Homo sapiens: one gene and its partner. The protein of the gene in region 2 purifies or fractionates together with the protein of the main gene of each other region. This does not show direct contact. Each region holds a gene or a part of one and is shown on either strand. Other genes may lie near its edges. The genes, in order: AKAP12 and SCLT1.

The links.
Region 1: the proteins of SCLT1 (region 2) and AKAP12 purify together in Homo sapiens (affinity purification with mass spectrometry; one large-scale study listed by BioGRID and IntAct). This does not show direct contact.

What each region holds. Positions count from the first base shown.
Region 1 is NC_000006.12:151,351,143-151,354,966, reverse strand, and holds part of AKAP12 (A-kinase anchor protein 12), read right to left. Parts: coding exon 1,227-3,824; 3' UTR 1,215-1,226; intron 1-1,214. UniProt on the Homo sapiens protein: Anchoring protein that mediates the subcellular compartmentation of protein kinase A (PKA) and protein kinase C (PKC).
Region 2 is NC_000004.12:128,939,751-128,943,574, forward strand, and holds part of SCLT1 (sodium channel and clathrin linker 1), read right to left. Parts: intron 3,439-3,824; coding exon 3,246-3,438; intron 145-3,245; coding exon of another isoform or gene 91-144; exon of another isoform or gene 34-90; intron 1-33. UniProt on the Homo sapiens protein: Adapter protein that links SCN10A to clathrin. Regulates SCN10A channel activity, possibly by promoting channel internalization.

The DNA of each region.
Region 1 (3,824 bases), on a different chromosome or scaffold from region 2:
GCTCACGACTGTAATCCTAGCACTTTGGGAGGGTGAGGCAGGAGGATTTCTTGAGGCCAGGAGTTTGAGACCAGCCTGGGCAACATAGCAAGACCCCTGTCTGCAAAAAAATTTAACAATTAGCTCGGAGTAATGACATGTGCCTGTGGTCCCAGCAGCTATTCAGGAGACAGAGGCAGAGGCAGGCGATTTGCTTTAGCCCAGGAAGTCAAGGTTGCAGCAATCCATGATTGCACCACGGCATTCCAGCCTGGGTGACACAGCAAGGCTCTCTCAAAAAACAAAACAAAGATAGGGCTGGGCGTGGTGGCTCACACCTGTAATCCCAGCACTTTGGGAGGCCAAGGCGGGCGGATCACGAGGTCAGGAGATCGAGACCTCCTGGCTAACACGGTGAAAACCCATCTCTACTAAAAATACAAAAAATTAGCTGGGTATGGTGGCGGGCACCTGTAGTCCCAGCTACTCGGGAGGCTGAGGCAGGAGAATGGCGTGAACCTGGGAGGCGGAGCTTGCAGTGAGCCGAGATCGCGCCACTGCATTCCAGCCTGGATGACAGAGCGAGACTCCGTCTCAAGAAAACAAAACAAAACAAAACAAAAACCACAAAGATGGGGAGTTACTAGCAACTGCAAGTAACTAACACAGTGAGGGTCGGTCATTATATGCGCTGGAAAATTTTTAAAAATACTTGTTACTACTGCTAGGGGAAAAAAAATCCATTTTTTCTGAAAGAGCTATCATCAGCTATATTTCAGGCAGTTTAATATTAGCCCATTTGGGGGCACTAGTTTTTTTTGTTTGTTTTTTTTTTTTGAGACGGAGTCGTGAGGCACCACGCCCAGCCATTGGAGCACTAGTTATTTTTAAAAAAACTCAACAAGATAGTTGAGTGAACACAATGTATTTCTTATGCCTTTGGGTCAAACACGCACATGTGCACACACACATGCCGTTTTATTTTATTCTAAAGCAGTCACATTAGGAGGTAAAACGAAGTCGTTCTTTTCATAACATCGATAAGACTAAATGGCATTTCAATCACCAAAAACCATGAAACTATCCTAGATCTTTGAATCTAGTTGATAGTTATTTTCCTCAACTGAAGGTTCTACACGAAGGCATTAATTATTTGCTCCCGATTCCTTATGTAACAAATTTGCCATCTATTGGCATAAAAGAGAAAAATTATCTTAGAAGACAAGGAAGCTTACCTGCATGATGTTTTAAGATTCTGTAAGTTCTGACTTTGCAGATTCTCTCTCTTGTTTCTGTAACTCCTCCTGTGCTTGGGGTGTGATCGCTTTATCTGATTCACTGTGCACTTTTCCTTCCTGCAATTCTACTTCCTGGGCATCCTCCTTCTCTTTTTGTTTTGGTCCATTTGTATCTGGGGACTCTTTGGTTAAGCCTCCTGAGGCATCAGTATCAGCCAGGGCTGAGTTCTGGTTTTCAGGGTCATCAACATCATCACCTTTTTCATCTTCTTTCGGTTCAACTAGTGACTTCTCTATTCTTTCTGCTAACAAGGCATGACCATCATCTTCTGGCACAGACTTTGTTCCAGCTCCACCTCCCTCTTCCTCAGATGGGAGGACGACCTCTTCCAGCTGCTGATCATTTACAGTGGAACCTTCTACCTCAACAGTCATGGTCTTTTCTGAGGCTTCACTCATGTCTTTGGAAATATCAGAATGTGCTTGTCCCACTGCGGTTGACTCTGACTCCTCTTTGGCTGAAGTAATTGGTGTTTCATCCTGTGCAGAGGCCTGAGGTTCCTCTCCTTCTTTCTCCGTTTCCTGTCCAGCGTCCTGGCTGTCAGCTTTTATCACGTGAGCTTGTGTCTGTAACTCAGACGTCAACATTTCGGTGGCTGTTTCTTCTGTACGTACAAACTGGTCAACGGCTGTCTGGATGATGTTTTGGACAAGTTTACTGCTTTTGGTCTCAAGTTCCAAAATCCCATTTTCAGGCTCTAAATCCTCAATTGCTACACTCACTTTGACCTCCTGGCAAGCAACCTGCTCATCGACTTCATCTGACTTCCACTTCAGTGATGTGGTTTTCTCTCCTTCCAGGTCGGAACTTAAGCCTTTCTTGGTAGTAGCAGATACTATCACTGGTGTCGATTTTGCCTGACAGTCGGGCCCTGTGGGCACAGCATCTTCCCCTGGATGAGCGGCAAAGTCTTCATTTTTTTCAGAGGATTTCTCTTCCAGAACTAAATGTGCACCTGCAGGCTCCAACGTTTCACCTGTTTCTAAAATGTTGGCAGTTTCTCCTAAGACCTTTTCCTCCTCTGCAGCCGCTGTTAGAGTGAATGATGCCTCAGAGCTCTGAACTTGAATTTTGGTGCATACTGCCTCCTCTTGACCTAGGCAGGGAGGAGGGCTTCCTTCCAAACTGCTGACTTCCTTTGCCCCATCTATGATGGGCACATTCACTGTCTGGAGGAGCTGCTTACTGACCTCTTCAGATACGGTAACAGCTGTTTCGTGCTCAAGCTTCTCTTCATTCACATGGGTTGGCTCTGCTTCTGTTTTCTCCCTTTCGACTTGAACTACCATCTCTCTCTCCACGGGGGATGGAGGAGACTTAGCGTGACTCTGCAGTTCAAGAGCATCATCCTTTTTACATTCAGCTTCTTCTGTCCCTTCACCTTTAAGGGCAACTTCAGTGACCTTTTCCCGACTGACTGTTATGCCTGTGTCTATAGACCCCTCAAGTCCTTCGAAAAATGGTACGTCTTTGGTTTTCTCATCAGCATACTGGTCAGCCTCTTGAGTCCCCTCAGTCTTTGACAGAATGGATACAGTTTCCACTGACACCTCTTTATCTGTATGCTCTAGAGTGTCTTCCATCTTTGATTGTTCTTTAGTTTCTTCCTGGAACACAAAACTGGAAGGTGCTGGAGGCCTCTCTTTCTGTGCAGGAACTGCCTCTGCTTCTGTGCCCCCTGACTGGGTACCAGATGCGACCTCATTCTCCTCATGGATTTCCACAATCTCGTCTTTCTGGGTTGTGCCTGGTGCGTCAAAGTCGGCTACGGGGGTGCTTCCATCAGTCTCACTGTCTGTAGGGGTTTCCACCGAGTCAGGGGGGATAGCCTGTTCCATCACCATCTCCTGTGATTTTACCCCAGCTAAGGTTTCGGCTTGACAAGTGGTTACAAGCTCACTGGACTCTATGCTCTCTGTGACTTGAGGAGCTTTTTCAAAGCTTTCTGGGGTGGTCTGCCCCACCACCTTCCCTTGTGTAAAAGGCTCAGTTTTTGCCTCCTGAGCATCTACTTTCAACACTACATCCGTCTCTTTCTTCAGACCCGACGCTTCAGCCTGCTCTTCTGGTCTTTCTGCCTCTGCTCTCTGCACAGGCTGAAGCACATCTTCTGGCCCACCGGTGCCAGGCAGCTGGGATTCCTCTTTCACTTTTTCTGCCACTGCCTGGAGGACCTCTTGAGTCCGCCTCTCTTGCTCTTCTATGTCAGGTACGCCACCTTCCACCTCCTGCACCGGAGTGGCCTCCTCTGTGGTGTCTGGGGAGTCGGTTAACTGGGAGACTGCTGACACCATTTCTGTGGTCTCTTCAGCAGCAGATGCTTCGGTTCCTTCTTCGGCACCCAATGGCCCTGCAGTTTCTGCAGCTGTCACAGCTTCGGGGGTCAATTCCGCCTCACTAACGACCGTGTCGCCCCGGGCCTCTCTGTTCTCTGGCAGAGGTTCAGTAACCGTGGGGGGTTCTTCTTCTGCAATTACTTCTCTTTCCAATACCTCCTCAGTTAACAGTGCGGCTTCAGCTTCTACTTGTTCAAGAGGTTCTGTCAC
Region 2 (3,824 bases):
ATGATAAATTGTTAAGGTTTGTAGCCAACTGACCTCCCAATATCTCACTGTCTTTATCTTTTTGGCTTCTTTCAGTTTATCTACTGAAGATCATACTCTTTTGCAAGAGGGAGAAAAACAGCAAGGTGTAGGTGCACCAGGTTCCTATTTTGTCAAAGAAAGAATCAGTTACAAAGCAATTTATCTTACAGCCTTCTTCCTCCATAAAATAGAATTATAGCTAGTTAGTTAAGACGTTCGGCTCTTTATCAATGGCTATTCTCTTAAGCTAGATACAGATTTGGTGAGATATGTGGGGTAGATAAACTTTCTATTACTCTTTTGTTGTCCATAACATCAGTTACTATCCTGAAATGTTAAAGACGGATCTAGTGGAGTACTAGATAGGAAAAATTCATTGATTCCATCCCCACTCATTATAAAAAAAAGAAAGCAAAACAAATACATATTGTAAAATTATGGAAAATAACAAAGCATTAAAGTGAAATGTTAAAGACGGATCAACTGGAGTACTAGATAGGGAAAATTCATTGATTCCATCCCCACCCATGATTAAAAAAAAGAAAACAAAACAAATATATATTATAAAATGATGGAAGATACAAAGCATTAAAAAGACAACTATAAGGTCCCTCTATTCCCAAAACTCAGATAATCCCTTCTAACTTCTACATAATTGTTTTTATTTATGAATTCTAAAATTGTTATTACAGTATGTAAAGGATTACTACATGTATGTGTGTATACACATAAATTTTTCAATCATAGGGTGTATCAATATAAATGCATTATAAATTATTTGGAAATATAGTTTTTAATGACAATACAGTATCTTATTAAAAACATATACACTATATGTCAAAAATACATATGTGTACACACAGGTAGTAATCCTTTATACACTATAGTAACAATTTTAAAATTCATAAATAAAAGCAATTATGTAGAAGTTAGAAGTATTATCTGAGTTTTGGGAGTAGAGGGACTTTATATATTTTTTTTAATGTTTTGTATTTTCCATAATTTTACTATACATATAGATGTAACATATTTACTTCTAGATATTTAGGTTGTTTCTAATTTATTATAAATAATGCTGCAATGAACTTATTTATGAAATATTTTAATTACTTTCTTATGACTGAATTTTAGACTCTAAAGTAAATACGTACCATTTAATACTTTTAGCTGCACGTTCACTTAGAGATACTTAGCAATTAATTAATGGTGAGTTTAAACTGCTTACTGCCTACTGTTTTTTTTTCTTAGATTGCAGATTCTGTTCAACTCTCACATGATTTTTTATTCGGTTACAAATAGTTTTCTCTTATATTTTTAAAAGCTCTTTAGATAAAAGCATGGGAAAACCTGCCCCCATGATTCAATTACCTCCCACTGGGTCCCTCCCATGACACACTGGGATTATGCAACTACAATTCAAGATGAGATTTGGGTAGGAAGACAGCCAAACCGTATCAGGATGTATGTATGTCTGGCTTTAAAAGATAATGCTACATTCCCAGCAGTATCTATCAAAGTTCTAATTGCTTTATATTCTTAAAAATACTTGATATTTTTAGTCTTTTTAATTTTAGCCATTCTGGTGGTGTGTAGTGTTATCTTGTAGTTTTAATTTAAATTCTCCTAAAAAATAATGAAGTTGAACATATTTGCCTATATGCTATTTTATGAAGTGCCTACTTAAGTCTTTTGGCCTTTTCTGGAAATGGAGTATCTATTTTTTTCTTTATTAGCTATTAGCTGTTTTTTCCTTATTAATATTTTTCTTATTAATTGGTAAAAGTTTTTATATTTTGGATATGAGTTCTCTTTTTGGTTATATGCACTACAAATACTTTCTCCCACTTTTCCCTTTCTTAATGGTGTCTTTTGGTGACTAAAAATATCTTAATTTTAGTGAAATCCAGTTCAGCTTGGATTTTTCACCATGGTTAGTGTTTTTTTGTGCTCTGTTTAAGAAATATTTCAAACCCAAAGGCAAGAAGATTTTCTCCTAGAAACTATCATTTCACATTTCACATTTAGGTCTACAAAGCAGCTCCAACTAATTTGCATATATGCTGTGATATAGGAGTTAAGTTTTATTTTTAAAATATGGATCTGACTGATCTAGCACCATTTGTGAAGCCAGTTTTCCCCCCACTGAACTGCAATGGTGCCTTTGTTATAAATCAAGTGATTATGATAAATGAGTTTGTTTCTAGACTCAATTTTTTGCCATTGATCAAGTTGATTATTCTTATGTTGATAACACATTGTCTAAATTATTTTAGCTTTTTATCAAGTCTTGATATCTGGCGGTATGGGTCCTCTCCTTGTTCTTCAAAGAACTCCCATAGTCTAAAGGTCAAAGTACAAACTTCTTTTTAAATAAGACTCTCTTTTTCATTTCGGAGTTCAAGGTTTTACAAATAACTAGGGCATTTCATACCTGCAATAGGAGGCATTCAATAAATTTATGTTGACATGAATTAGGTTGGAATATGACTTCTTAGGAGTCCTTGCAGCAATAAAAACCAAAATAAAACAGTGACATGACCTCTTCATATTCTTACTATGAAATTGGAAGATGTAGATATTTATCATAAAAAGTTAGTGCCACTTTTTACAAAAGTCTCATGACATGGGGAAAGGTAAGCAAGATGTTGATGAAGATTGTGTTACTTGAAAGTCCCTTAAAAAGAGGATCACCTTCCTATTACCAAACCATATAAGCATCAGAGGAGAAGGAAATAAGAGAGAAAAGAAAGGGAATTTGTTTTAGATGACATTTTTGCCTCTTGCCTTCTTCCTGCCATGGAATTTTCAGACTAGTTATGAATGGTTCTCAGAGCCTACTGCTTTAACATCCTCTATACAGTTAGTTTTAGAGAAGTTCAACTTTTCAAAGGCTACTACAGAGAGAGAAGAGAGGAAGGCAGTCTGTAAAGTTATCTAATCCATGGTTTTGCTAGTGCTGCTTAAATTGCTTTGGCAGGAATATCAGTATATTTCGTGGTTGGAAAAGAATTTTTTTGTGTGTAGCAAAGGCAATCATTTTCAAGTATGCCTGCCAAGTTCTACAACACAGAAATGATTGGTTAACACTCTGAATTATGATTTAGTGCTATCTGATGAGAAGGCAAAAAAAAAGGGGGCCTTAAAGATGTTTTGCTAGGTCTCTCTAAATATTCTCTATACTTTGATTTTCATAAGTACACATTTAACTCTAGTCTTGAAAATACCTTTACTTTGGCTTTTTTTTGAGCCTCCAGGGCAATCTTCCTTAAACTCTCAGTCTCTTTCCGTAACTGTTTATTTTCTTGCTGAAGTTTTAGCCTTTGTTCACTGACAAGCCCACAGTTCTCTCTCTCAGACTCCAATACATTTTGAAGTTTCTGAATCATTTCTTGGTAACGTGATATTTCTTCTGAGGAGCTGATTAAAAAACGAAATGAAAAGAATCCTTAAACTTAATGATCTATAGTAGAAGATAAAAGTCTGTCTACATTTTATCACATGGACTTTTGTTTGCTTTATTCTGAGCCATTTCTTTCCACTTTAGACTGAAACTATGTGGTTTCAAAATGTTATGTTATACCAGGCAAATACATTCAACTTAAATATATTCAAATTTTAACTAAGAACAGATGAATTGAACTGTTATCACTTATCTAGAAAATCAATGTGAGACTTCTTTCAAATTTGTACTAACATTAAGAATCACTGTGTATGGAGAACTTCAAGGAAATGAACTGAAGCAACAAAAAAAGGATGAAGCGGATAATAACCAAAACTCCTTTACTTAATCAATAAACTCCATG